Linked DNA regions of Homo sapiens: region 2 is linked to region 1. Evidence: fine-mapped expression QTL. A gene starts in region 1. The other region holds a variant in brackets. All regions are shown on one strand. Distances are from middle to middle. Region 1 holds the start of TRIM23 (tripartite motif containing 23). Region 2 holds the start of LOC124900988 (a long non-coding RNA gene).

The links. PIP is the estimated chance that this variant, and not a neighbour inherited with it, causes the effect.
Region 2: its variant is fine-mapped to the expression of TRIM23 in spleen (GTEx, PIP 0.91).

What each region holds. Positions count from the first base shown.
Region 1 is chr5:65,612,964-65,628,825 of GRCh38, reverse strand. TRIM23 (tripartite motif containing 23) reads left to right here and starts at 4,493. Exons shown (of 11, transcript NM_001656.4): 1 at 4,493-4,632; 2 at 10,571-10,733; 3 at 14,607-14,728. The coding sequence starts at 4,552. It overlaps TRAPPC13 (trafficking protein particle complex subunit 13), which reads right to left and starts at 3,799. Exons shown (of 13, transcript NM_024941.4): 1 at 3,720-3,799. The coding sequence starts at 3,765. It overlaps SHLD3 (shieldin complex subunit 3), which reads right to left and starts at 3,799. Exons shown (of 2, transcript NM_001365341.2): 1 at 3,720-3,799. RefSeq lists enhancers at 4,284-4,363, 4,494-4,823.
Region 2 is chr5:66,281,583-66,297,444 of GRCh38, reverse strand. It overlaps LOC105379004 (a long non-coding RNA gene), which reads left to right. Exons shown (of 3, transcript XR_948385.3): 2 at 15,097-15,250. LOC124900988 (a long non-coding RNA gene) reads right to left here and starts at 5,031. Exons shown (of 3, transcript XR_007058792.1): 1 at 4,815-5,031. The variant G/A (reference allele first, on the strand shown) is at 7,660.

The sequences.
Region 1 (15,862 bases):
ATTCTAATCTGTCTGGAAGAAAATTAATCATTTTATACTTAAAATTATGTAGATTTGCCAGGTGCGGTGGCTCATGCCTGTAATCCCAGAACTTTATGGGGGCCAAGGCGGGCAGATCACGAGGTCAGGAGCTTGAGACCAGCCTGGCCAACATGGTGAAACTCCGGCTCTACTAAAGATACAAAAAATAGCCGGCTGTGGTGGCGTGTGCCTGTAATCCCAGCTACTCAGGAGGCTGAGGGAGGAGAATCGCTTGAACCCGGGAGGTTGAGGTTTGCAGTGAACTGAGATCGCGCCATCGTACTCCCATTGCACTCCAGCCTGGGTGACAGGGCAAGACTCCGTCTCAAAAAAAAAAAAAAAATTATATGGATTCCACCAAACAAATATATAGATAGAATATTTGATGATTTCACGTCATTCTCTGTAGTAAAAACTAAAACCATTAATATGGTTTAACTTTGCTAATATGGTTTAACCAGGCTAAGAACCAGTTTTGTGACACTGTCTTCTCCTCATAATCCAGGCAATTAAACAGTATGGAGACCCCAATACCATGGCTTTTGAATTCCAGTTTGGAAGAGAACAAGAAGTCTAGACTCCTATTTTTTTCTCTTAGAGCACAGAAGTCCTCAAGTTGCCCCAAATTAAGTCACTGATAATAAATTCCAGCATATGGTGCATAGGCTCAAGAATGGAGCCTTCCAATATCTGCAAGTTAGGCTTGCTAATCAGGCCCAAAGCTGTAAGAGCCATAAAACAGACTTTTTCACATCCTAACAACAGCAGAAAAAAATAAGTTGAATCCCTTCTCCCCAAAAATCATTAGAGAATTACTTGATGAGGGTTCTCCCACTGCTAGGATAACCATGAGTATGGATTCTTGTCATCATTTCACAATAGAATCACTGTCTGATTCTGAAGAGTTAGAAGAAATAATTTCATTATTTTTACCTACTGATACTGCCCACTAACAGATCTGACAACTCTCAAATTCATAAATAATTGTGATCTTTAACATCCATATTTTAAATATGGATCTAAATGTTATCATATATACTTTCAAGAACTAATGATGCACTAATGTTTTTCTTCCCTGTTCCTTATACTTTCACATTGTAAAATATGGCACTGAGAAATTCTCTTGTTGTCTAAAGTCAATCAGTGTTATACTCAAGGGATGACTTTTTTTTTTTTTTTGAGACAGAGTCTTTGTTGCCCAGGTTAGAGTGCAGTGGCACAATCTCGGCTTACAGCAACCTTCGCCTCCCAGGGTCAAGTGATTCTTGTGCCTCAGCCTCCTGAGTAGCTGGGACCACTGGTGCACACCATCACGCCTGGCTAATTTTTGTATTTTCAGTAGAGACGGGGTTTCATAATGTTGGCTAGGCTGGTCTCGAACTCCTGATCTCAAGTGATCAGCCACCTCACCCAACCAAGAATAACAAGATATTATCTTTAACATTTTACATATTAAAAGATAAAGTGAACTTAAATGACCACTTAAATTAATACATTTGGCATTCAGCATCAGCACATTGAAATGTGTGAAAATTGTTGATTAACTAGAACAATGGGTTAACTATAAGATGGTACTAAAGAGGTTTAATAAAGTTGAAACTATCAGTCAATTTTGAAGCACTTGTCCGTTTAGGCTGCTTATTGTTCTTTTTTTTTTTTTTTTTTTTTTTTTTGAGACAGGGTCTCACTCTGTCACCCAGGCTGGAGTGCAGTGGCGCAATCTCAGCTCACTGCAGCCTCTGCCTCCCAGGTTCAAGCGGTTCTCCTGCCTCAGTCTCCCGAGTAGCTGGGATTACACCACCACACCTGGCTAATTTTTGTATTTTTGGTATAGACGGGTTTTCGCCATGTTGGCCAGGCTGGTGTCAACTCCTGATCTCAAGTGATCTGCCAGCCTCGGCCTCCCAAAGTGCTATTACAGGCGTGAGCCACCACGCCTGGCTTAGGCTGCTTAAATATTCTTTCTTAGGTATCCTTGGTTTTGGAAAAAAAAGAATAACAGAAAACTAAAAATTCCCAGTGGCAGTCTCTGTATCACTGGAATTTAACTTTTTGTTTGTTTGTTTTTTGAGATGGAGTCTCGCTCTGTTGCCTAGGATGGCGTGCAGTGGCGTGATCTCGGATCACTGCAAGCTCCGCCTCCCGGGTTCACGCCATTCTCCTGCCTCAGCCTCCTGAGTAACTGGGACTACAGGCGCCCGCCACCACGCCTGGCTAACTTTTTGTATTTTTATAGAGACGGGGTTTCACTATGTTAGCCAGGATGGTCTTGATCTCTTGACCTTGTGATCACCCGCCTTGGCCTCCCAAACTGCTGGGATTACAGGGGTGAGCCACCACGCGCGGCTGCAATTTAACTGTTTTTAATAGCTTCTAATTTGTATAAATCACACGTAGCAGTTAATAGAACTGTTCCAAATTCCCATCGGAGTAGCTGGTAGAGGAATTATCTCTGAGAATGCTGCTTCATTCTTTAGGAGGCAACACGGACTCTTGGAAAGAGAGGCAGGCCTTGCGTTGAAACACTGCCTCAATCACTAGCTATGTGATCTTGGAAAAGTTACTTAAACTCTGAGAATTAATATTTACTCCACATACTTGAAGTGAGATTGTGAGATAAAGAACACGACAATTAGTTGCTTTTCTTCTTTTCCCTCTTCTCCACGAGTAACAATCCATTTTAATCTCCATTTTAGTCTAGATCATTTGCTCAGGTTAAGCTTACAGGTCCCATCACTGTATCACTAAACATTACAAAGTTCCACAGTAAGAGACAATCTCGCTAACACAGGCATCATTATATGAGACTGATGAGCTTCTAGAAAGTCTGATGACTACATCATAATGGGAAGGATAAGGCGTTCCTCAAAATGGATGCCATAAGTAAAGTAAGCGCAATTCAATTGAACCCGAATGTTTATTGAGCATTTCCTCAGCTCATTCAAGAAGTCATTGTTAACCATATATTAAGGCATCCAAGAAACAAAAAGCGCATTTGTTGTAGTAAAAAACAAATAAAATAAAGCTGAAAAGATTTCAAATAAAAGGTTTCCAGAAAATAGGCATTAAAAAAATTGTCCTAAAAAAAAAAGTGCTGCTGTTTTTTCCTAAATAATGATCTAATTAAATCACCAAACTTACTCAAAATGGCTGTGTACAAAAAATGAGAGTTGACATTAGATCTCGGACATATTTCCCACATACACAGTGATTTGAAGTAAACTGCAGTTTGTTTTGAATAAATCTAAGTTATATGTTGTATTACTATGTATTGCTAAATTCTCTGCACTACTGTCATGCAATACTAATTTTACAGGGGAAGCTGAAGCCTGATTAACTTCGTCAGTGCCACAGGAAGAAACAAGAGACAGAAGGAAAAAGCACTTTGGATGCCCGCTGTAATTCACAGAGATCTCCACGGTAGGAGCGGGACGTCAGCTTCTGCGGCTAAAATCTCGTGACTGAAGCAGCACAGATCAGAAAGAACGATTTACCAGGTATCTATTTCGTTCTAGAAAGGGGCCCATAAACCTAAAAAGCATCCAGGAGAAATCGCTTCCTCCCGCTTGGCGGCAAAGGACAGAGCAGGAGGGCGAGCACTGAGTGTTTAAGAAGGATGAGGCCTACATGGCAAAGGCTTCGATAAGTAGGGAATGCAAGGAAACAGAAAAGGGGGAATCAGGTTCGCAAAAGTTTACCTTTTAGCGCCAGCAGGTGCTCCTGTTTAGGGGGATTCACTTCCATTTTGACCGGCACTTTTGACCCACAGCCTACGGGGGCTGGACAGGTTCAACTTGCCCCGGAAGGAAACGGAAAACCTCGCGTTTGGCAAAACCAAAAGTCAAACGCACTCTCAACCTCTCTCTGGTGGTGGTACCTTAAATTCTCCTACTGTGTCCTTTACAAACTGGCTTCTTTTCAACAAGTCCATTTCTTCTATCTTAGAAACGTAGGCATAAAATACTTTGTTTTCCATCTGCAATCACACATCGCGACTGCAGGAAAAGAAACCACCCCTAGGTAACAATACGCGGCCTCCCAAAGGCCAACGTTGCCGGAGTTTTTTTTTTAAAAAAAAAAAAAAAAAAAAAAAAGAGAGAGAGAGAGAGTGGCATGCTGGGATTTGTAGTTTATACAAAAACCGCGTTGCATGCAGGGAGATGCCCGTACCCCCTCACCGCCCTCAGTTCACGCCCTGGCTGGTTTGGATTCGAGAGGAAAAATCATTAAAGGATCTGGAGTTTTCACCCCAAAACTTTAATCGTTTTGTCCCTTCTTTTTTTTTCTTGTCTTTCCTCCAGCAGCTGCAGACTACATAATGAAAAATAACAAAAGTGCCCATGCGCGAGGCTGTGCAACTAACCACCCGACGATTGCGGGGAGGAGGAGTAAGAGTCGGCTAAGCGGCGCCCAGTGTCCTACTGCGCCTGTGCGCCGGTGGCGTGCGCAGAGGCCTCTGGGTAGGTGGCTCAACCCCGCCTCTCAGTTGAGGACTCTGAAGGCTGTTTCTGTGGCGCTTCCCCTGCGAGGATGGCTACCCTGGTTGTAAACAAGCTCGGAGCGGGAGTAGACAGTGGCCGGCAGGGCAGCCGGGGGACAGCTGTAGTGAAGGTGAGGGACCTTGCGTGCTCTATTCTCCACCATCGGCCTCCCTTCGGTTCATCCTGGAGACCTGGCGGCATCGCCGCGGCCCAGGCTTCGATAGGTGGGATGCGCGGCCTCTGGGCCCCTTTTGGCATTACAAGTCTCGTCCTGTCCTCTGCATCCTTTCTCTCCTATGGCCTGAAATTGCCTGGTCTTCTGCTCATGACATGTCATCATCGGGACATTTGTGAAAAGGAGCTTGCGGGCCAGTGGCAGTGACCTAGACCGGTCTTTTCTCCAGGTCCTCTGCTTTTAGTTAAACTCAACAGACATTAATTAGCTTAGTATTATAAATTGAGTCATCATCATCGTAACTACGTACTAAGTTAGGTGTTTTAGCTCGTTAATATCTACTTATGAAGTAGATGTGAATTCCCATTTTACAGGGAGGAAACCCAGGTTTAGGTAAACAGTGTGTGGCAGAGCCCCGGGTTGACCGGCTTTAAAGTCTGTACTTTTCGCTCTTGTACTGCGTCTGTAATCAGACATCTGTTATTGGGTGAGCTGCCCCCTCCCCTGTTAGTAGTACAGTCTATTAACTCTTTGCACAAGTCTGCAGCATCGTCATAGCTGGGCATTAACGATAGAGTTTATGAATTTTCTTATGCTTGAAGTTTGAGATTCTACCATGTATACATGCTCCAGAATCAATTTGCTAAAAAATCATTTGAAATATGTGGCACTCATTTTTCCCTTCCACTGTTGTGCACGGAAAGATATGGAGGGGAGAACTGATCCCATTGGTTTATAGAGTAACCTTCAGGAGCATCTCTAATCTAAGAGATTGATAATTCTCATTCCTGGCTACATATTAGGATCACTGAGGAGTTTTAGTACACTACTGATGCACTCCTCCTCCAGTTCTGATGAGGTTGACATCAGTATATTTTAGGAATTACCAGAAGTTATTTTAATGTGCAACCAGGGTTATGAATTACTGATCAAGGTAATATATGAAGTTTTTTTCACATCTTGAAAAGTAGACACCTATGATTATTCAGGTAATGTTGGTTTTATATGACAGCAAATGAGACATTTCTTCCCACAATTTAGTATCAGTGAATATTGGTGGTTGTTGATTCAGATGACCTTTAGGTACTAATGAAGTTATTCTACAGGTACACGGCATATCTGATATGCAAAGGAGCCCTCATTATTAGGCATGTTGTGTGACTGAGATTTTATTTATTGAATTGTGCTTTTGCTAAGTAGAGAATACTTGAAGAGCAGTTTGTGAATTAACTTGAAGTTTAAGTTTTATTTCATAATTGGAATGGGTATCATTGCAGTATCTATTTTTTTGTTACCCTGTTTGCCTTACAGTCTCAAAAGTGTACCAAAGCCTGATGTAACTCCAGTTTCTTACAGCACAGAATTTGATACATTGGAGGCTCACCTTGTTCATTTTCATCTTAACATGTAAAATATTCCTGAACTGTGCAATGAAATAGTCCTTTCTGACAAAATCTTCATGCCATAATTTGTAGTAGGTATAGTAGCATAAACTAAAAAAATCTCACTGTCATTTCTATAGATGAAAGCAAGAAGTATTTATTGGAAGGTAAAAGTTGAAGTATATAATGCTAATACTGTGTAAAATGGCCTTTTGCTTGTGAACAAGTTGATAATGACATGGCTTTTATCATTAGAGAAAACAGTAACATAAAAATCTGATATTGTGGCTAGGCGCGGTGGCACACGCCTGTAAAGCACAAAGTGCCTGGGAAGCACTTTGGGAGGCCAAAGTGGGCGGATCACTTGAGGTCAGGAGTTTGAGACTAGCCTGGCCAACATGGCGAAACCCCGTCTCTACTAATAATACAAAACGTAGCCAGGCATTGTGGTGTGGGCCTGTTAATCCCAGTTACTCAGGAGGCTGAGGTAGGAGAATCACTTGAACCCAGGAGGCGGAGGTTGCAGTGAGCTGAGTTTGTGCCACTGCATTCCAGCCTGGGTGACAGAGTGAGACTCCATCTGAAAAATAAAAGATAAAAAATCTGATATTGTGAAATAACTGACATTTAAAAATGTATCACAGAAAGTTTCACACCTTTAATCTCAGCACTTTGGGAGGCTGAGGTGGGAGGATTGCTTGAGCCCCAGAGTTTGAGACCAGCCTGGGCAACATGGTGAGATCCTATCTCTACAAATAATAATAAAAAAAAATTAGCCAGGCGTAGTGGCACATGCCTGTGGTACCAGCTACTTGGGAGTCTGAGGCAGGAGGATTGTCTGAGCTTGGGAGGTCAAGGCTGCAGTGAACCATGCTCAGGCCACTACTCTCCAGCCTGGCTGACAGAGTGAGACCCTTTCTCAAAAAAAAAATAATAATAATAATAAATAACAACATAAAATAAAATATCTGATTGATTACAGTTTGATTTACAAGTAATAAGTTTGAAGCTTTTTTGGCATTTTTTGAAGTGTAAAATTAAGAGCTTTTTCCTATCTAGGGTTTTTTGCTGTTAACCACAATTCCTATTTATAGATACTGAGGAAATATTTTCTTGCTGTATTATTTACCGAGTTGATGCAAAATAGTCTAGTAACTTTATTTTTGGACCTGTGTTTGGTTTGCTAATCAATGGAATTTTATTAGTGCTTTTTGAAAAATACATTAACAGCATAAGGAAGTTCTTTTAAATCTTTGTATAGTGATGGGATCAGAGATACAGGATTGAAATGAACTAAACAATTTTAATATGGTTCTTTGGAGTTTATTGTCATAAATTTACTTTATTAGAGTATCATAATACAGCATTTATAAAATGTTGCATTTATTTTATATCAAATTCTATTGTGAATTTTTGAGACAGAGCCTCACTCTGTCGCCCAGGCTGGAGGGCAGTGGCACAATCTTGGCTCACTGCAAGCTCCGCCTCTTAGGTTCATACCATTCTCCTGCCTCAGCCTCCCGAGTAGCTGGGACTACAGGTGCCCGCCACCGCGCCTGGCTAATTTTTTGTATTTTTGGTAGAGATGGGATTTCACCACGTTAGCCAGGATGGTCTCAATCTCCTGACCTCGTGATCTGCCCGCCTTGGCCTCCCAAAGTGCTGAGATTACAGGCGTGAGCCACCGCACCCAGCCTATGAATATTTTTTCTATATTTAATTGAATTTTTTTTTTTTGAGGCAGGTTCTCACTCTGTCACCCAGGTGGGAGTGCAATGGCACGATCATGGCTCATAGCAACCTCGACCTCCTGGGCTCAAATGATCCTCCCACCTCAGTTTTTGATTTTTTTTTGTAGAGACAGGGTCTCGCTGTGTTGCCCAGGCTGGTCTTGAACTCCTGGCCTCAAGCAGTCCTCTTGCCTTGGTGTCCCAAAGTGCTGTGATTACAGGTGTGAGCCACAGTGCCTGGCCTAAAGAATTTGATAACGTGAAACTTTCCCCTTTTTAAAAAATGTAGGATAAATTGAAGTATGTGTATATATGAATAATAGACAGAATTATACGTGGATAGCTGTTCCCCAGTTGTTTGCCTTTTTCATGGGGAACCAGTGTTCCAATGTTACTGGTGTCCTATGTATCCTTCCAGGAAGACAATACGCTTATACAACAATACAAAAAAAATTTGCTCTTTCCCCACCTTTATGCAAAAATGAATATATTCTATTATTTTTCTTTTTGTTTTAATCATATGAAATCATTCTGTGTATATATGAAAAACTTCATCTTTCTCACTATCCTATATAGTTTTATAGTATTATGAATGTGCCACAATTTATTTTCCAAGCTGATATTGATGTATATTTACTTTCTTTCCAATTTTTTGCTAATGCAAATGATGCTTTAAGGAGTAACATACAGATTTTGTCACACGTGTCTAGTATGCTTGTAGGATAAATTCCTGCAACTAGAATTACTGAGTTATTTAAATTTGGTAAGTATTGTCAAGTTGCCCTCCATAGAAGCTGTATTGCTCAATAAACATTTCATAGCAATTAGTAATGTATGAGAGTGTCTGCTTTCCCACACCTTCACTAACAAAATGTTACCAACATTTTTGATCTAATCTGAAAAAAGTATTTTGATGTAGCTTTAATTTGCATTTTTCTTTCTTTATTTTTTTGAGACCGAGTGTCATTCTGTCACCTAGGCTGGAGTGCGGTGGCGTGATCTTGGCTCACTGCAACCTCCGCCTCCCAGGCTCAAGCAATTATCCTGCCTCAGCCTCCTGAGTAAACTGGGCTTACAGGCGCCCACCACTATGCCTGGCTAATTTTTTTGTATTTTTAGTAGAGATGGGATTTCACCATGTTGTCCAGGCTGGTCTCGAACTCCTGACCTCAGATGATCCACTCGCCTCGGCCTCCCAAAGTGTTGGGATTACAGGCATGAACCACCATGCCTAGCTTTAATTTGCATTTTTCTTATTATGAGTTAGATTGAACATCTTTTCACGTAAAGAATTTTCATCTTCTTTTCTCTGAACAATGTTATGTTTCTTATTTTTATTCATTTTTATCTTCCCAAACCCTTATTTACATTGAAGGACTAAATTTAAATTTCTTTTGAACCATGATAAGATGCAAAGCAATTATGAATTATCACTGTATGGTGAAAGATATTTGCATCTCAAGCACTAAGTCCAAGTTAATTGTAGAGTTAGGTTTAAAATCATAGTAGATTTAGTCTGATTTCTGCCTTGGGTTTTCTGTTTTTTACCTCGTGTTGTGTGTTTGATGATGGTGAGCTTAATTGTTTTTAAATTATTTTACTGGACTTTATGTAAGCAGTAGGTACTTGGTATTTAAAATACCCAGTTCCTGAGGGTTCTTTGGTCCAACAGGGAAAGACGGGCTAAAAGACCAAGGTATTAAAGTGTTTTGGGTGTTACGGTAGACGCTTATACAGAGTACATCGGGGCCCAAAGGACAAGTATAGTCCTTTCCTCAGTGTTAGCATGAAGAGACATGAAACAGTTTCTCATGTTCTGAGAACTATAAGCTGTTGGATATAGTTGGAGCATAGGGTCAGAAGAGTATGGCAGTGAAGCAATAGGACAGGGACCAGATTGTAGCAGGTCTTGAATGACAGGAGTTTGAGGTATGATTGAATAGTACAGTGTGGGTATTTTTAAAAAATTAATGCAAGGTATGAAACACTACAAATATACTTAGAAATAAGTGCTGAAAATGCTTTATTGCTATAAATACAATTTGTTGACTATTTGTAAAACATAAACTTATGGACTTGAGAATCAGAATATGCTGATAAATGGCCTTTCTTTTGACTGACTGTGTAGCCTTGTGCAAGTCATGTGTCTGTAACTAGAGCTAGAAAGACAAACTAGTTTCTAATTCAGAGCTATATTTATTGATAGAGAACAGGAATTGAAATTTAAGATGATTGCTTTTTTTGCCTTTGTATTATTTAATGTACATTAGATAGTAGAAGATACTTGAAAGTTACTTGCAGTCTTTTCTTAACAAGTTCTTTATCATTTGCAGGGGTAATTGTTATCTCAGTACATATTTTAGATTATTTTTGTTGAAATTAATGATAGTTTATTTGTGTTGAAATTAATGATGGGTTAGGTAGTTGCAGAGAAATTGCTTAAGAACCCACCTTCAGTAGAATTACATATTGTTTGTACAGATTCAGATGTAATGACTGAAATCATAATTTTCAAAAGATAACAAAGATGTTAATTTACAGCATCTTTGCCCCAACACTTAGTATTTCAAAGATATTTCATTATGATATAATTTTGACAGGGTCGGTCAAATGGAATGACTTAAAAGTGATTCAAGATTTTACAACCTACATAGTTTTTTTTTCATAGAGGAATAAAGTAACAATGTTGATTCAATATATTAGGTGAATTTTCTTATATACCTAAAATATGTATGCTTTTAAAATTGTTTAAAGAGCACATCCTTCCTTTTCAAATATTAGGTGCTAGAGTGTGGAGTTTGTGAAGATGTCTTTTCTTTGCAAGGAGACAAAGTTCCCCGTCTTTTGCTTTGTGGCCATACCGTCTGTCATGACTGTCTCACTCGCCTACCTCTTCATGGAAGAGCAATCCGTTGCCCATTTGATCGACAAGTAACAGACCTAGGTAGGAAAAGTATTTGTATGGATTTAAGATTGAAAATTGTTCATGTAATGCAAATGTCATAGGAAACAATGTCCTTCCACTTGATTTTTAGAATGATAAAATTCCCAGAAAGTTTCAGAAAGCCTAAGTTTCTATTAAGGTCAATAATCTTCAAGCTATAAACTATCTCACTCTTAGTTACTAATTTTATTTTATCTTCTGAGATGTTTATATTCAATACTTATCTGTAAAGAGCTTTAAGACACCTGAGAAAAACGTGCTACCCTGATTCAAATAAATAAGAATGTGTATCACAGAGTGAATCATTTGCCTGAAGCCATAAACCCAATAGAACAATGTTTTCTTTACAAATAAATAAGCCAATAATGAAAATACAGATAAGTCATTTGAGTCTCACCATGTTTTTATTTACTAATATCAAGGACAGAAGTGTTTGTAGCTTGTGATAATTACTCTTTATTTTCTGTTAAAATGAGTTTGAAGGGTTTGTGGCTTTTTTTTGCAGTTTTCTGTATACTTTTAAAACTTTTCTTTACGTATTTCAAACTAAGTTATTTTCAGATACCAGATTTGGAAATAATAGCATTTACTAACATTTGAACAGTTATTTTACAAACGTAAGTTCTGTAAGTTTACTCTTTTTGATAAGGGAGTTTTCTCCAAAAGAGTTTAAGGTTGCCATTTTTTTTCCAGGTCAGTTGCACTATCTAAGACAGTTTTAATATATTCATACTATTTTTCAAGTGGAACACATTCAAAATAATTTATCCACCAAAAAAGGAAGCAAGAGTACCTATAATTTTAGGCTGGAAGACTTTGAAATGCTAAGAAACATGGTTTTAAAATATTTTCTGGAGAAAGAAAAGGATTTTTAAGGTTTTGGTGATCTTTGATGTATATAAATAGTCTATTTGCCTGACAACTAATAGACAGTAATAACATTATAGATAGCATTAACTTACCAGTAGCCAAGAAATAATAGGGATTGGGAAAGTCTCTGTACTTTTATTTGGTCTTTTATTATGTGAAATATGCATATATCATACTATTTCTTTATATAAAACTATACTTAGGCCAGGTGAGGTGGCTCATACCTGTAATCCAGAACTTTGCAAGGCTAAGATGGGTGGATCACCTGAAGTCAGGAGTTCAAGGCCAGCCTGGCCAAAATGGTGAGACCCCTTTTCTTCTAAAAATGTAAAAATTAGCTAGGCATGGTGGTGGATGCCTGTAATCCCAGCTACTTGGGAGGCTGAGGCAGGAGAATCGCTTGAGCCTGGGAGATGGAGGTTGCAGTGAGCCTAGATCACGCCATTGCCCTCCAGCCTGGGCAACAAGAGCAAAACTTGGTCTCAGACAAACAAACAAAAAAACTATGCTTAAAGAAATAGTAATGTTTTTCAAATAGAGAATAGAACCTTTCTTCTACTTTTTTTTTTTTTTTTTTTTTTAAAGCAGAGTGTTACTCCGTCACCCAGGCTGGAGTGCTGTGGCGCGATCTCAGCTCACTGCAGCCTTCACCTCTGGGGTTCAAGCGATTCTCCTGCCTCAGCCTCCTGAGTAGCTGGGATTACAGGCACCTGCCACCACGCCTGACTAATTTGTGTATTTTTAGTAGAGATGGGGTTTCACCATGTTGGCCTGGCTGGTCTCGAACTCCTGACCTCAAGTGATCCACCTCAGCCTCCCAAAGTGCTGGGATTACAGGCATGAGCCACCACACCTGGCTCTTCTACCTTTTTGAAGAGCACTTTACCTTCTCTACATTAATACCACAATGTGAAGAGTTACTATCCTCAATGTTTAACAAAACTAGAAATTTATGACAGGGAACTAGACTGAATACATCCATCCTCCTCTCTGACTTCTCTGAATCCTGAATCAGAATTTCTCTCTAGTCCAAGAAGAATATGAGTAGTTATTAATACCATTCAGCAATATTCCTGATTTTCTTCTGCTCATATGGTGAAATTACACTTCCTTGCCCTCTTACGCATCACTGTGTGATGTTCATTGATCAGTGAAATGTAAGCAGAAGTGAAGTGTTAGCATCCAGGTAGAAGTTAATAAGAGAAGGTTTATGATTTTCAAAGTAAATTCTTCTCCTTGCTGCAGTGAGGTGGTCCAGATGGTTGGAGGCTCGGTAGGCTGTGTCCCTGTTTGTGGTCAGTGGGGAACAGAGTCTCTCTTGTCTTCCCTAATCCCTGAGATGTTGCATGATGCAAAAAATAAATCTTTGTTGTGTTAAGCCATTGAGATTATAGAGTTGTTTTGACACAGAATTAAGTGATATAAATATTAGGCACTACCTAGTAATAATGCTAGAGGTTTATTTGTATATATTCATTATATAGTGACTGGATATTTAGAAAATTGTCAAGACTATATTTTTAAATGATCACTTAGTGTACTTCTTAACCTTTATGTAAATAGATAGAACTCAGCTTGTTGTAGAATATGTGTTAAAAATTAAGGAGAAAGCCTTCTAGGGGCAAGGCTGAGGATAGATATGTTCAGTCCAGTTTTTTTGGGAGAACCACAACACAGAATGGCTTTTTTTTTTTTAAGAGCCAGGAGGAAGGGGGGCCCTGCAGGCAATGACTCCATCAACCTTTTATATATTTATTCATTTAATGAATATGTATTAGGTGGCAGCTATATCAGATGTTATTTGTTGCATAGGAGTTTACCATAACAAATATTCCTTCTGCTAAAGGATCTGACTTTTATTCATAGGTTCAGGAAGAGTGTGTATGTTGTCCTGGGTTACAATGTTATATGTATTTCTTAAGGTAGGTTGCTGCAAAAAGTATTTGAAAATGCTTGTTTTAGCATGTATAGTAAAAGTCAATGACAAAATAGGACTTGTAAAATTAAATGATAGAGAAATAGGCTGGGCACGGTGGCTCACACCTGTAATCCCAGCACTTTGGGAGGCTGAGGCAGTCAGATCACTTTAGGCCAGGAGTTTTGAGACCGGCCTGACCAGCATGGCGAAACCCCATCTCTACCAAAATATACAAAAAAATCAGCTGGGCATAGTGGCACACACCTGTAGTCCCAGCCACTTGGGAGGCTGGGGCACGAGGATCACTTGAACCCGGAAGGTGGAGATTGCAATGAGCAGAGATCACGCTACTGCACACCAGCCTGGGCAACATAGCAAGACTCTGTCTCAAAAAAAAAGTAAAAGAGATTTAAATAATTTTTTTAAACTGTGGCAAAATATATGTATAACATAAAATTTGCCGTTTTAACCATTTCTAAGTTTAGGGACATTAAGTACATTCATATTGTTGTGCAGCCTTTACCACCATAATTTTTTTTATGTGTATTTAGATTTTTTTTTTTTTTTTTTGAGATAGAGTCTTGCTCTGTCATCCAGATTGGAGTGCAGTGGTGTGATCTTGGCTCACTGCAACCTCCACCTCCCGGGTTCAAGCAATTCTCGTCCCTCAGCCTCCTGAGTGGCTGGGATTATGGGCGCCTGACGCCACACCTGGCTAATTTTTGTATTTTTAGTAGAGACGGGATTTCACCATGTTGACTGGGCTGGTCTTGAACTCCTGGCCTTAAGTGATCTGTCCGCCTCAGCCTCCCAAACTGCTGGGATTACAGGCGTGGGCCAAAGCACCTGGCCAAAAAATAATAAATTTTAAAGTGTGTTTCTACTTGGAAGGCTGAAGGATTCTTCTGTTTTTTAAGAGAGCATTAACAAAGCAATTATTTTGGTATTAAAAATGGGGAAAATTTGAATTTTAAAAATTTAGACATTAACTACTGAACTATATTAGAAATTACTTTTGAGGTATGGGTAAAATGATTAATAGTCCATTTTGTTAGATTTAGTTTTTGTTTTTATATTTATTCTAGGTGATTCAGGTGTCTGGGGATTGAAAAAAAATTTTGCTTTATTGGAGCTTTTGGAACGACTGCAGAATGGGCCTATTGGTCAGTATGGAGCTGCAGAAGAATCCATTGGGATATCTGGAGAGGTATTGATCATACTTGGTGAAATATTTGTTACGAGCATGAATTTTTCTTTTAATAGATGCCATTATTAGCACAATATTACTTCATTTATTTCAGCAGGTAAATTTCTAGAAACACAACTTTTCATTACATTACAGTTCTGAAGGCCAACACTATTCCCAAGAGAAAAAACTAGAATTATTTGAAAATCCTATGCCTAAACTATGCTTTATGTGTGAACTTTTTTTTCCTTATCATAATTCAGTTCTACCAAGAATAAAGTGAAAAGAGGAAGAAGATTATGGAATAGTAAGAAAGATATGTAAGCAACAGTAGAGAAGAGGATGCAAAAGTAGTCAACAGTAAAACTCAATGAGAGAAAGAAAAACTCGATGTAAGAGGCCATTTAATACAGAGGGGAAAATGCCTTAAAGATAGCAGTAACTTCTGAGGGAATTGTTACTGTTATAGCTTCAAGAAAAGGTTAAACTTTGTATAGATGTACTGTCTTTATCCATACAGGTAGATGTCTAGTAAATATCAGAATCCATGAACACTGGATTTTAATAATGTAAAAGTATATTTTTAGCACTTATGTGTTTGCATAGCTGCACATATGTACTATAGGACATGGCTTTCGTAGGCTGTTATGGGTAAAAATATATTTGGAGTAAATATCAGTTAATGATTTTGGTGATCAACTTGCAAACCACATATTTTGTATGAAGGAAAAAAAATGTCGGATTGCTTTCACTTCTCTTTCATTAGATGATGATTTCTTTATACTAAAGTGAATCAGTGAAATGAATTTCAAACTGCAACACTCTGTTTTCTAAAAGTTATGCAGTTCTTTCTGTGCTAAATCTTTAATCTTTATTTCAAAAGACATTACTGTTAGCTAATGTTGACATTATAGTTTATAATTTATTTATTTGTCAGGTCTGGGAAACAGAAGACCTGAATTTTTATGGTACATGTGTTTATTTCTCATAATTGCAAACAAAACTCTTCCACTTTGGATTCATTTTTTATTTAATGTGATAAAGAATGACACCATTGATGTATTTAAACATTTTTATTTTTGAAAAAATTTATACTAAATTTCTCCCCTTCCAATTATGGCCTTTTAATATTGAGTAAAAGTGTTCAAAACATTC
Region 2 (15,862 bases), 670 kb before region 1:
TAGATAGATAGATGATAGATAGATAGATAGATAGATAGATGATAGATAGATAGATAGATAGATAGATAGATAGATAGATAGATAGATAGATAGTAGATAACCTCCTATAGGTCTGTTTCTCTGTAGAATCCTAATACTGCAAGTGATTATTGAACCATGCATGTCACAAGTCTAATTAGAAGTGACAAGGAGTTCAGGGGAAGAGGCTGGCAGAGAGGAGGAGAAAGAGTTTTCAAAGATTAAAAACTGAAAACTGTGCCTTAAATAAAAGAGAGGATTAAAGCAGGCCAAGAAGAGGAGGAAGGGCACGGGCAAAGGAGGAAAGGTATCAAAGATAGTAACAACAGCTGCTGGATACCGAGCAACGCCTCTGTACCAGGGCCTGTGATCAGAGATTTACATTCATCATTTTATTCAGTGCTTATGGAAACCCTACAGATGGCTGAGATCCAAAACACAGACAACACCAAATGCTGGTGAGGATGTGGAACAACAGGCATTCTTATTCATTGCTAGTGGGGATGCAAAATGGCACAGCCACTTGGGAAGACAGTTTGATAGTTTCTTACAAAGCTAAAATAGGCTTGTACTTTCCAGCAATTGAGTTCCTAGGGTATTTACCCCCATGAATTGAAAACTTATATCGACACAAAAACCTCCACACAAATGTTTATAGTACCTTTATTCATAATTGTCAAAAAACCAGAAGTAACCAAGACACCCTTTGGTAGATTAGTGGATAAGCAAACTGGTCCATATTTATAATGAAGTGTTATTCAGAAATGAGCTTTCAAGCAATGAAAAGACATAGAGGAATTTTAAATGCATATTCTAAGTGAAAGAAGCCAGTCTAAAAAGGCTACCTACTGTGATTCCAACTATATGCCATTCTGGAAAAGACAAAACTATAGAGACAGTAAAAAGATCAGTGGTTGCCAGGAGTTGGGGAGGAAGGAAGGGAGGAATGAAGAGATGGAGCATGGGGGATTTTTAGAGCGGTGAAACTGTTCTGTATGATACTGTGATGATGAATACATGACATGCGTTTGTCGAAACCCAGAGGAACTATGAAATAGGAAAGGGAGAGAAGGGGTATATGAGAAATTGTACTTTCTGCAAAATTTCTTCACAAACCCACAACTGCTCTAAAAAATAACGCTTATTAATGGAAAATTTTATAACTCTAGGGGATAGGTATTATCCCCATTTTACAGGTAAGAAAACTGAGGTAGAGGCATAAATAACCAAGTTGATACAACACTACTAAACAATGGCAGCTCCGGGCAGCAAATGAAGGAGGTTCTGTGCTCACCCTCACTTCCTGCTGAGGATGCAGGGGGCAGGCAGAGCGCTCCCACTCTCTCTATCTCTTGCACAAATGCTCTGTGTCCCCACACCAGCCAACAATTAATGCCTGCCCTTTCATCGTTTTTCTACATGTCTCTGTTTCTCTCTATTTCTCCATTTAATTATTTATTTATTTATTTATTTATTTTTGAGACAGTCTCACTCTGTCACCCAGGCTGGAATGCAGTGATGCAATCTCAGCTCACTGCAGCCTCCATCTCCCAGGCTGAAGCAATTCTCATGCCTCAGCCTTCTGAGTAGCTGAGATTACAGGTGTGTGCCACCACACCTGGCTAATTTTTGCATTTTTAGTAGAAACGCCATGTTGACCAGGCTGGTCTCTAACTCCTGGCCTCAAGTAATCCACTTGCCTCCGCCTCTCAAAGTGCTGAGATTACAGACGTGAGTCACTGCACCCAGCCTAATAATTCTTATATATGTCTTGCTCTTGTTATCCATCTCTGAAGCCAGCACAAGGCCAGTAAAGGTCTGGTAAATTACCTGAATCTATTCAGGGTCCTGACACGGTCAACAGACACACAGATTCTGACTGTAGCCTTCTCATTAAGCTTTTGGGTGTTTTTACGCTGCTGAGACCTCTTCCTACGCCCAAGGTTCTGTTTGGCCTCTGAACATCAGATACCCCCAGGGTGGCCAGTTCATCACCCACTCTTGTTTTTCCCAACACTGAAATGGGGCACACAGCCCTCGACTTTATTGGAGTATGATGGAAGTACACTAAACTGTGCATATTAGAGTGCACAATGTGATCAGTTTGACACATGTACAGTACTGTAAAAGCACCACCACAATCAAGATAACAAACATTTCCACTGCCCTGCAAAATGTCCTGGTACCCCTTTGCCCCGTCCCTCCCTCCACCCCTTCATCAGGCAATCAGTCTCTTAGCCACTTTCTAGCCCTATAGATTGCTTCCCATTTCCTAGAGTTTAGATAAATGAAGTCATAGAGTATGGACTGTTATTCTGGATCTTTCACTCAGCCTAATAATTTTGAGATTCATCCACATTGTGCATATCAGTCCTGCATTTTATTTTCTAGCTTTTTTCTTCTAGTTTATCCATGCTCCTGTTCTGGACATTCATTTCAGTTTGGAGCTATTATCCAGAAAAACTGATGTGAATATTTGTGTACACATTTTTCTGTACACATGTTTTCATTTCCTTGCATAAATACTGAGGAATGGAAGGGCTATTTCGTACGGTAAATATACATTTAACTTTTTAAGAAACTGACAAACTGGAAGTGATTGTACCATTTGACATTTCCACTAGCACTATGTGAGAGTTCCAGCTGCCCAATACCCTCTCCAATGCTTGTTATGATCAGCATTTTGTTCTGCTGTTTTATTTGTTTACCATTCTAATGGGTGTAGTGTGGGGGTATCCCACTATGGCTCTATTCACGTTTGCTTACTAACTAGTGATGTTGAGCATATTTTCATGGGCTTATTGGCATTTGATATATCTTCTCTGTCATGTTTATTCAAACCTTTTGCCCATTTTCTTATTGGGTTGTCTTCTTATTTTTGATCTATAAACATTCTTTATATGTTTTAGATCCAACACTGCATATTTCTGAGAGGGCCAGACAGACAGGGAGGACCTAAGCTGGCAGGACTCTCTAGCGTGGTGCTGTGGGATCTCCCTCCAGACTGGGGTCCAGCCCTCTGCCTCTCTGTGTACTTGGGAGGATGTGGCTCAGCAGTGCTGTTGAGCCCCTCACAGGCTGTGGGAATGCACCAAGGAGAGAAAGTGTTTCTGCTACATGTCACCTGCAGGCTGTGGCCACGGAGGTCTCTCTCTCATGGTCAGGATCTCCTTCCTCCTACCTCCTAACCCCAAGGCCTGAGCACCAAGACGCCACTGCCCTGTCTCAGCACCGCAGGCCCAGGACTTGAGCGGGAGCCCGTGGAAGGCTTTTTGCTTGGAGGAAACATCTCAAAGTCCTGGACTAAAGGCTCTGGACATCTAGAGCAGTGTTCTCTGACTGTCGCGTGCATGGGAGCCACCGGGGAGCTTGTGGTGCAGGTTCCGCTTCAGGAGGTCTGGGTTAAAGTCCAAGATGCTGCATTTCTAACATGCCCCAGGCCATGCTGATGCTGCTGGTTCTGGGACTACAGGTTGAGAAAGGAGGGTCTAGGGCAGGTCTCAGAGCGAGGACCACCCATCAGCAGCAGCCGCACCCCCTGGGAACTTGTAAGAAATGCAAATTTTGGGGCCTGACCCCAGATGTGCTGAAACTGCAACTCAAGGGTGAGGGTCTGCGGTCTGTGTTTCAGCAAGCTCTCCAGGCGATTCTGATGTCTGCGAGCACTTGAGAACCGCTCTGCTGGACAACGAAGCCCATCATCACTTCTCCTACCACCCGACCTGCGTGTCTGAGAGCACTCAGATGGTGGGGGGCATGGATGGGGGCAGGGATTTATTTGTCCCCATATTTCCATACTAGAGGAAGTCCACATAAATGGAGAGGTTTCAAAGTAAGAAAGAAAAGTAAGAAAAAGAAAGGAAAAGAACCTCCAGTGCCCTGCCTTTTCCTGACCTCTTTACTGCTCTCCACAATACACTTTCCTGCTTTTTGCAGACCCCCAGTTAGAGAATAGAGGGACTTTGTGCCCCTGATAGCACATACCTCGCTTGTTCCCTCACTTCCAGGCCTCTCCTGGGATACTCCCTCTCCACCCTCCTCAAGTTCTCCTATCACAGCCCTTTGCCTGGCATTTTCCAGCCGTCCTCAGGCTGCATGTCACCTACCCCACTAGACTGCAACCATCTGCTCATTTATCTGTCTCTCCTACTACCTGGAGCCACATGGGTGGGGGGTGGGGGACAGGGGCTGTCTTGCCCCACAGTTCTTTACTATGTAAATGTTAAATGAATAAATAAATGGGAAAGAGCCAAAGGAGGAAGTAACCATGGACAAGGAAGGAAAGGAGCACTGAGCTCAAGCTGGACAGTCCAACCCAGACATTTTGCAGATGAGGACATTTACAGAAGGCAGCAGTGTCATTGTTATCTCTCCACCACTCTCTGTCCACTGCCTCCCAGGATCCAAGAGTCTAGAAATCTTAACAGGCACTGATCTTTTCTCAAAACTATGCCAAAGCCTAAGCATTTTTGTTCTCACTCATTTATGCCTAAACTGAAGCTAGGTAATAGTCTTCCTCCCCACCAGGCATGGATGCATTCAGAGAACACCAAAGCACCTATGCCTGAGGACAAATTATTATACTTTGTCCACAGGTGGACACCTGAACAGCCTCCCTTGCTCATCTAAAGAGGCTGCTCACACATTTGTTTTTAATTCTCTAAATTCTTCCCCACCTGCGAATGTAGACATCATTACACACTATCAACATTTAAACTTATTTTGCTCATTTCCAAAGTAGAGAACAGTTTCTATCATTCTAAAATACTAAACACAATAAATTAACAAGCACTTACCCAGTAGGCACCTACAGAGTCCCCAAGGTTGTGGGAACTAGAAAGTCTAAGGAACAATCAGGAGACTCTCAACTTAGTGCTTATATCCACTTCGGAAAAGACCATTTCTTGCCTTGACTGGCACATGATTCATCTGTCACCTAATTCTGATGTCCATCCAGGCATTAAATGGATTTTAGTCCTTTTAACCGAAAAACTTTCTGCCACCTCATTCATTATACCTAGAAACCAAACACAAAGTGGGACTTAATAATTATTTGTCATGGATGATGACGATTTCAATCTGAATGCCTATGGGATTACTGGAATAATTACATACTGCTGGGCTTCTGAGAAAAATTGAGCCACTATTCATTCTCTGGTGGGCTTCTCTGCCCCAGCAGGACTATAGGCCTTTAACATAATAAGAAAGGCTGAAGATGGGGCTCCCTTAGCGGCCTATGGTCATAAACAGGAATCAGAACCATTGACCTGGGGGTGGGAGGTGGTGCATGATCAGGCAGTGGAGATAAGGTACTGAAATTGCTTTTAGCCATTATTGTTTGCTGCCCTTCATATTAGAAAATGGTGTGTTTGGAACTGACTGCCTGTGCCTGTGTAGGAAAGAAGAAAGACATAAAGATGTGACAAACTGCCTTGCTGCCGCACTGAGCTCCCTGACAGCTAGCCTTGGGTGGCACCAGTAATTCATGCAAACTGTGAAGGTGCAGTGGTGAGACATTCTGACATAACTATCAAAATAATGGTAATTTCAGTTCATCTGTTCATAAAATGGATCTTTTTTATTTAAGAAAAAAAGCCAGGAGGCATAACTTAGAGGCATGAATCATTTTCTTAACAAAGAGTTTACACCTATAATCCCAGCATTTTGGGAGGCCAAGGTGGGCAGATCGCTTGAGCTCAGGAGTTCAAGACCAGCCAGGGCAACATGGTGAAACCTTGTCTCCACAAAAAATACAAAAATTAGCCAAGCCTGGTGATGTGAGCCTGTAGTCTCAGCTACTCTGGAGGCTGAGATGGGAGGATCCTTGACCCTGGAAAGTCAAAGCTGCAGTAAGCCAGGATCACACCACTGCATTCCAGCCTGGGTAACAGAGCAAGACCCTGTCTCAAAAAGAAAAGAAAAGTTTAAAGGAGAAGGATATTAACATTTAATTATTGGATGATCATTATTGGCATCTGGAGTTGTAAGTGAGATGTAGAAAGCATCTCATCTCCTTTAAATTTACAATAGTCCTACAAGGCAGACAAAACGTGCAAGGTAAAAACTGGCAATCTACAAGTTAAGTGACTAACCCACTCAAGGGCCCATACAGGAGGGAGGCCAAGATATGCCCCAGCCTATCTCACTCCCATGCCTCAAGGAAGCCTGGCCAGAGGCCAGAGTTGTGGGATCTTGACGTATAAGATTCTTCATATACATACATATATACATATATATTTATATATACACACGCATACATGTGTATATATACACAAACACACACACGTATGTGAATACATACATAAACTCTAAATATATAGGAAGGATGATGGTTGATCTACATTAATATAACATTTAAATACACTTTTATTTGTACTGCTAAAAACATGTACAAAACATAAGATTTGTACATCTTATAAAGCAACATCACAGAGTTTTATTTTTGTAAAAGGCATATATACTATATATTGAAATGGTTTGGATGTTTGTCCCTCCAAATCTCATGTTGAAATGTGATTCCCAATGTTGGAGCTGGGGACTGGTGGGGGGTGATTGGATCATGGGGGCAGATCCTTCATGAATGGTTAGCACCATCCCCCTGGTGATGAGTGAGCTCTGGCACAGTTAGTTCACATGAGATTTGGTTGTTTAAAAGAGTCTGGGACCTTCCCCTGCTCTCTCTCTTGCTCCCACTCTCACCATGCGACATTGCTCCCTGTCGCCTTCTGCCGTGAGTAAAAGCTTCCTGAGGCCTCACCAGAACCCAAACAGATGCCAGCGTCATCCTTCCTGTATGGCCTGCAGAATTGTGAGCCAATTAAACCTTTTTTCTTTATAAATTACCCATCCTGAGGTATTTCTTTATTGTGACACGGGGACAGACAGACACACACACACACACACACACTCTCGCATATGTGACTAGAAAAAAAGTCTAGAAAAATATACAGCAATGCTAGGAGTGATATCTCCAAGACAAGAGATTATAAACAGTTCTTATTTTATTCTTTATACTTTTCTGTAACTTTAAAAAATAGATGTAATGAGTATAAACTACTTTTTCAATAAATAATTAACTTCTAGGAATATAAGCTTAAAAGGGCACATCAGAAAAACGGGACCTAAGGATTTTGCCCTTGGTAAATTCCTGTTCCTGATAATTTTCCCTAAAACATTTAGTATGCAATCTAATCTGTTCCATAAAAATCATTTTTTCATTCATTATACATTCACTCATTCAACAGGTATTTGTTGAGCACTTACTATCAATATATACCAAGTACTAAAGTGACCCCTGCTTGGGGATTCTGACCTTCTGAATCAGAAGAGGGGAATGAAAGAGGTACAGTTATTATGCATGTCACCCTATGTCATAAACAGAGGTATCAGAACCATTGACCTGGGGTGGGAGGTGGTACAACATCAGGCAGTGAATAAAAGGTATTGAGAGCAGAGAACAAATTTGCATTAACTTCAGCAGGGAAAGACTACTTGGACAGAATTTTGTCTTCACATCTACAGGATGAAATGGCGCCAGAAGCTCTGTGTGGACCACCAGCTTCTCGATCCTGGAGGTGGAGAATGACAGGGCTGGCAGAGAGAGGTAGGCTTGGGAAGAGGCCAACCTGAGGACAGATGCCC[G/A]GAACAGACGAAGGCCACAGGTTGCCCAAGAAACTCCTGCCTTCCTTCCCTACAACCTATCCTCATGTGGTGCTGCCGAAGCTGCTCTCAGCCTCTCCTTCCAAGGGTTCCCTGGGGAGCAAAGAGGCTCTCACTGTGCCCCATGTTAAGCAGAATGTCGTTCACCGTTATCAGTCCCAGGGGAGAGGAATCCCACGCACTGGTTACCAACCCCAAGGCAGGATTTCTAAGACCAAGAGAATAGCAAAGACGACCACTATGCCAACCACCAGGAAGAGAAGTCCTAATACTTTGCCCATTGCATTATGGTGCTGGAGTCGCCAAGGAAAACAGGACGCAGTCAAGCACTGGATGGAACAACACTTTACTTACACGGAGAAGAGATATGGCAAGAGCTGCTTCAGCAATGTGTGCCAGTATCCCATGGCCAGTGGATCTCTCCTGACAGCCCACACAGAGCAATTGGCTATGTGTACCCCTGCCACAGTATACGGACCTAGTCCCCTCCCTGTGGAGGAAACATACAGCTGTGGGGTTGGCCCAGTGCCATGTGATGCACCTGCCTAAGCAGGACAAAGGAGCATACATTGGGCTTGCAACAGGGAAAGATATTTCCACACAAGCCAATACACCCAGCGCAGGCCGTGTAGCTCTTTATCTTTTGGTAGGGAAGTGTTCCAGGACCAAGGTTTGTTCTTTTTTGTTTTACAAAGATATTTTATTTTATTTTTAAACTTTTATTTTAGATTCAGGGGGTCCATGTGCAGGTTTGCTACCTGGTGCATTTTATGATGCTGAGGTTTGGAGTACGATTGAACCTGTCATCCAGGTAGTGAACACAGTACCCAATAAGTCGTTTTTCAACCATGTATCCCTTCCCTCCTGCCACACTTACATTCCCCCGTGTCTATTGTTCCCATCTTTATGTCAATGTGTACCCAATTTTTAGCTCCCACTTATAAGTGAGAACATGCAGTGCTTGATTTTCTGTTTCTTTGTTAATTTACTTAGGATAATGGCCTCCAGCTCTATCCATGTTGCTGCAAAGGACATGATTTCATTCTTTTTTAGGGCTGCATCATATTCCACGGTATATATGTAACACATTTTCTTTATCCAATCCACCACTGATGGGTGCTTGACTTGATTCCATGTCTTTGCTATTGTGAATAGGGCTGCAATGAGCATGTGAATGCAAATGTCTTTTTGGTAGATCTATTTTCTTTTGGATATAAACCCAGTAATGGGATTGCTGGGTCAAATGGTAGTTCAACTCTTAGTTCTTTAAGAAATCTCCAAATTGTTCTCCACAGTGGCTGAACTAATTTACATTGTCACAAGCAGTGTGTAAGCGTCCTCTTTACTCTGCATCCCTGCCAATATCTGTTTGGGTTTTTGTTTGTTTGTTTGTTTTACTTTTTAATAAAAGTCATTCTGACTGGTGTGAGATGGTATCCGTGGCTATCTTCATTTCTCTGATGATTAGTGAAGTTGAGCATTTTTTCATGTGTCTGTTGGCTGCTTGTATGCCTTCTTTTGAAGTGCCTGTTCATGCCCCAAGGTCCAATGTTATGCGGCCAGGACTGTGTGAAACTGCCTTTCAGCACCCACTTCCCTGCCTCCATTTCCATGCACATTAGAACAGGGACCCCATTATAGGACATGGGTTTATGAGGTCATTTCTGTTGGCTTTCTTAATAAAAATAAATGTGTCCACTGCAATCCATACTAGAACAAAATTTGTTTTAAATGAGACAGGGTCTGGCTCTGTTGCCCAGGCTGGAGTACAGTGGCACAGTCTCAGCTCACTGCAACCTCCACCTCCCAGGCTCAAGCCATCCTCTCACCTCAGCCTCCCAAGTAGCTAGGACTGTAGGTGCACATTACCACACCCAGCTACTTTTGTATATTTTTGGTAGAGATGGAGTTTTGCCATATTGCCCAGGCTGGTCTTGAACTTTTGGGCTCAAACAATCTGCCTGCTTTGGCCTCCCAAAGCGTTAGAATTACAGGCATGAGCCACCGTGCCTGACCTAAAATATTTATTTCTTCAGGCATTTTGACTCAAATTCTTTGAAATTTATAGATTTATTTTACAATCAAAGATGGGCTAGGTGCAGTGCCTCACTCCTGTAATCCCAACACATTGTTTGAGCACAGGAATTCAAGACCAGCCTGAGCAACATAGGGAGGCCCCATCTCTACAGAAAATTTTAAAATTAGCCAGGCATGGTGGTGCACACCTATAGTCCCAAATACTTGGGAGGCTGAGGTGGGAGGATCACTTGAGCCCAGGAGTTCGAGGCTGCAGTGAGCCATGATCCCACCACTGCACTCCAGCCTGGGCAACAGAGTGAGACCCTGTCTCCAAAAAAGAAAAAGAATCTAAGGAAACTTTCAGAAATAATTTGGAAAGACCAAAACATGGGGTACCCACAGAAGACTAATAATTGGAAACCCCTTCACGTGATAAGAATTTGTTCAACATTCCCTAGCAGGCATGAGGAAAGGCTAATAGTCTATGAATAAAAGCTATAGACTTCTTTCTTTATGGTCAAAATAAGGGATCTATCATGTGTTCTAAACATAGCAATCAATCTTATATTGAAATTGTCTATCATTTTGTAGTATTTTCTTTAAAACAGCTATGAGTTGGTCCTACACAGTCACAAAGGATAATCTCACTCACATCCATTCTCTCCAACTTTTTTTCACATTATCCACACATAGAAAATGATAATATTTGTAGAAAAACCTCTATGAGTTGGTCCTATACAGTCACAAAGGATGACCTCACTCACATCCATTCTCTCCAACTTTTTTTTCACATTATCCACACATAGAAAATGATAATATTTGTAGAGTACACTGAGGTAATCTGGGGGAGGTATGGGTATATCTCTTTGGAGCTTGGTGTAAAACACCTCGTGACTTTTTTTTGTTTTATATGCTATAATGATAAAAAATTAAATATAAAATATTAAGAAAGATGTTAAATATCTAATTTGAATATTACTTTCCCAGCAATTTTTACATTTTTTAAAATTAGAATTAGAAACTCAAGTTTGCTTCCATGAACGTTAACAACCGTAACTTTCTTATACCAGATTTTAAAGCTGAAATGGCTGCACACAATTTGTGATCAAGAGTTTTTAATGATGATCCTTTAAGTCTGTGAGTCACATCAATGAGAAATTTTGTTCTCATAATTATGATAATACAAATGTTTTAATCATTTTTATAACTTTTGAAAAATTTATAATGGTTCAAATTGTATTTTAGAAATCTAACCACTCTTTTTTCCCCATTGGCCAATATCATAATGAAATATTTTTAATGATGAGAATAGATTTATAATCCAATAAACTTTTTCACGTCAAGTATTTCAAAACAATGATAACACTCAAACAGAGGGCATGAATGTCATCCTTCAGGGTGAATCAGCTGCAGATCAGACAAGGGCAGCCATCATATGTATAGGAGGTGGAATAATAGCCCACTAAAGATGTCTGCTGCAGTCCCGGAGACCTGTGAATATGTTATTTCACATGGTAAGGGACCCTACGGACGTGATTAAATTAAGGAGCTCAAGCTGAGGAGATTATCCTGATTATCTGTGTAGACCCAATATCACTACAAAGGTCCTTCTAAGGAAAAGTGGTAGGCAGGAGAGTCAGGCAGAGAAGATACAACAACAAAAACAGAGGGCAGAGTCAGAGAGAGACTTGAAGATGGTGGGCTATTGGCTTTGATGCTGGAGGAAGGGGCCATGAGCCAACAAGTGTCCTCTAAAAGCTAAAAAAGGAAAGGGAACGGATTCTTCCCTAGAGCCTCCAGAAGGAATGCAACCTGGCCAATACCTTGATTTTGGTCTAGTGAAGCCCATTACAGACTCTGACCTCTAGAACTGTATGATAGTAAATCTATGTTCTTAAAAGCCACTAAATTTATGGTTATGTGTTACAGCAGCAATAGACAACTAATACAGAGAAAGAGAGACTAAAATACATACAGAGAGTGACTAACTCTGAAACAGGACCTGGAGCTGGGCCCACAGGAACCATATACAACCTCTACCCCTCCCACATCCAACCATCCGCTCCTTACACACCAAAACCACAAATTCTCCAATAGCTCCACAGGACCCTTGTCCACAACAGGCAGCATCAATGTACTCTGCCGCAGGCAGCTGCTCAAGTAGTCTCTGAGTGGTAGAGCACCATGACCTCCCACAACACATCAACCTAGAGTCATAAGTGCTGGCTGTTGCTCATCACACTTGTCACCCAGGGGCACCACAGAGCAGTCACAGACTCTGCTCCACTCAGGCTGCCCTCCAAGGAGCCCCATATGAGGCTGCTCAGGAGCTCCGCCTCTGCAGGCCCTGCCCAACCACCTTGAGGGCTGAAAGGAACAATATCTTGTAGCACATGTGTACCCACCTGTGACGTCCCAGTAATAAACTATTGAGAATCTCTAAATTCTATGACCACTGTTACAAAGTCTAGGATAGAGCAATACACCATAGTTTGTTTACTTCCAATTTCTCAGCTGAACTTGACCCAGACTTCAGGCAATCATCAGCTGGCAGGTCTCAGAGTTGGTGGTGCAATCTGCATTTGCACATGAATCTTGCCCCACACAGAAACACATATCAAAATAGATAGAAATCAAAACAGGTTACCGTTTATTTCAATAAGAGAGAAATTTATACTTCACCAGGTTTTTAAGAAGCCCTAATTAACTGGCATAATATTTCTCTTTTATTCCAGTGATGTTGTAGTGCTTTTTATAGATTGTTGCCTTGGTGTGCCTGACCCTTAATCTGGTTCTGATAAATCTCATTTCTCTTGTGTGAGAGAGAAATAGACAGACATGGTGAAGGAGAGAAAGAGCAAGCAAGCCTGTTTTCCAGTGAGGTGGGACAGCTCATGAAGACATTCTGAAGTTCCCAAGGTCAGATCACCTTGTCATCCCAGGGCTGACACTCAGCCAGCATGTACTAAGACAGCTGTGCCACTTGTGTGCCTCTGTATTGATTCATTAGGGTGCCATTTGACTGGTTGGTGTTTGCACTGCCAGTTGTTAAATAACCTTAATATAACCCTTATTGGACCATTTGCCTGAATATATGGCTATGTGGTAACACTAGGGAACCAAGTTTTCAAGGACTCTGACATGAGCATAAAGAAAGGAGAGATGACCAAAGAAAAATTGTTGTGGATTTGAATACATCTGCAAGAACATATTAGATATTCCAAGTCATAGTCATAATTACCCCCTAAAGAGGTGTCTAAAAACCTTTAGACCTGTTTCTCCTTCTAACAATTAGGACTTTCTATCCCCTAGTGCCAGTCCTCTGTGGGCCTTCCACAACTTGTCAAAGTCACTCCTCTGCAAGCTATAAAACAACTGCATTTTGTGCCTTTTTTTCCTCTGAAAATGTAAGGAAGGGAACAGGAAAGTCTGTAAAACAGGAGATTGTAGCCCTGTCTATCTCCTTTCTCAGTTGTGTTGTTCTCCTTGCAACACTTTTGTCTGATGCTTTCCAAAGCTCCTTTGAACAATTTATGCAACTTACAGGTTAACACCTGGGCTCAGCTGCCCAAATGCCTTACCTGTGGCCAGTATGATAAACCCAACAGGCAGCATTGTCAGGGATGAGCCTGGGCACAGCCCACAGCCCTCCTGCACTCCTTTCAATCTGGGCCACACTTGTCTTTGCCATCTGAGTCTGGGCAATAGCAAACAATTTCACCCCCCCGGTAACACTAGCCTAAACTATGCCACACATAAGACCCTCGAGGGCTCAGGCTGGTTTCTGTTTTCTCTTGGGTCCCTTTCCTCATGAGCCTGATGGTGACAGACCAACTTACAAGAACACCGAATTGCAGCAAAAGAATACACCTCTGCAGGTTTACAGCTGGCAGGAGCCACATCTTCAATCTGCACAGGCGTCTCTCCTCACCATCCCACCATGTCAGGCACACACCACTGCCAAAAGGAATTGGTAGACACCCACTTAGACAGAGATCTGAAAATTGAGTAATGGAGAGTAATTTTCTTGAGGAACAAGGTATCACTGGAGCCCATAACTCAAAATGAAGAGAATGGTGGGCAGAAAGCACTATATTTTGTTAAAATACACTTGCTTTATCTTAGTTTTCTCAAAGAACAGTCAAGGGCCTAACACCTTCTTAAGAAAGTCACATAAGCAGATGGCTAATATTTCCACGTCAAGTGAAGACATTAACCTGCCTGTGCGGGGCCTGCTTCCTAACAATTGAAAAGTGGCAAGACACCAAAGAGCCAAAGAGTGAAAAGGTTTTCAGTTTGCAGACCTCCCCTTCCTCCCATGGAATGAGAGAGCACAAATGAAACACTAAGCAAATACTTCATGAAGAAGAAGGTGACATTTGCTTACCACAAGGGAGCATAAACATCCTAATCTGATGAAGAAGAACCAATGAGAAGATACTTAGAATGGCCTGAGTTATAAATTAAAGTGGATTAAATGCATATGGATATAAGTTACAGATAAGTTATAGAAATGGACGATTTTAGGAAAAGATTCATCCAAGAAATAGTTTACTAAGAGTCTAAATGTGGCACAACGTCAGTCCTGCTAATCACTAGATATACATGACAACTGTTTTAAAGAGAGAAATTAGGGTGATATTTCCTGACATTTTTTAAATACAGGTTTGAAACACTAGCACATGCCAAAAATCTTATTTTTTCCTAGTTCCTCAACTTTAAACTGCACAAATGGGGCTAGGCTAGTGGTGATGGTTGATCAGTGCTCTGAAGAGAAAGACAGCTTAATGTATCTAAGCAAGTCATGGGCTGGGTTCTATAGAAATCCAACCAGTTATCCTTTAGGCATATCACATATATTTTTTACTGGAAATAAAGTTTTATCACAAATGAAGCATTGATACAAACTATATTCCAATTTATATGAAATGATACACAATTTTGAAATGCAATTTAAAATAAATACAAACACCTATTTTAAATAGATACAAATATTCTCTGTATTTAAAACAAATAGTGAAGTGGTCTATCTCGGCAAGGAGGAATATTTTATCACTGACATTGTTTAGAATTGCCAGTGCACGTGATAATAAAAAGCAGACTGACATTTAGCCAGTCTTATTATTGATCTTAAACTTCTCTTTTGCTTGTCCCTGGGGCTGACCATTCCCCATCTATTAATATGCCACAACCTTACCAACTGCCTCAAATCCTTTTTGGAATGAGATGAGTATAAATGAATGAATGCAAAACACTTAGGAATGAAGTAGACCTAGAAAATATATTTAGAAACTTAGAATGCCATGGCCTATAAGAAATCTTATTTAAACTATTCTAATAAATCTACAACTACTATCAATCATTCCTTAATCATTTTTCCATTTCTCTATTTTGCTTTAGGAAGACGTAGTTAACTCTTCTCACAGTCAAGATTGGACAGTGATCCTTCCTCAGAATTTTGACAGAGCCCTGCTGCAGCCTTCCCAATACAGACTTCGACTGAACTTATTTTGCACCTGGGGTGATTGCCCCAGCCCTGCCACCAGCAGGCTCAGTGAGTGCAAACTCCTGCATAATAGCTGTTAACCCAAAAGAAGATAATAAGAATCTAAGTTCTTCAACTCTTAGCCTTTATCAAGGATTGCAAACTCAAATGCACAGAGCCACACAGGTCATTTAAATGAGTGAAATAATCAGAGAGTGGTGGGATGATGACATACTGGAGACTTGGACAGGGTGTGGATTGGAAAATGTTCTTGCACTGTGCCAGATCACAAAGATATTGGTGGTGGTGGTGGTATCTTATTTTGTTTCAGTTTGTTGTGTGTGTGGTTTTTTTTTTAATTGGGTGTTTTATTTTGTTTTATTGTTTGGGGTTTTTTTTTGGGTTTTTTTGGTTTTTTTCTTGCTTATTTAGGAAATTAAATTTTGTTTTTTATTTTGCTTTCACATTGAAAGAAATAATTTTTTAATTGGGGGAGGGGGCAACTCTGCCTCCTCATAAAGTTAGAAGATCTATTTACAGCCAGGCAGGGTGGCTCACACCTGTAATCCCAGCACTTTGAGAGGCCAAGGCAGAAGGATCCCTTGAGTGCAGGAATTTGAGACCAGCCTGGGCAACATGGTGAAACCCTGTCTCTATGAAATATACAAAGTAAAAATTAGC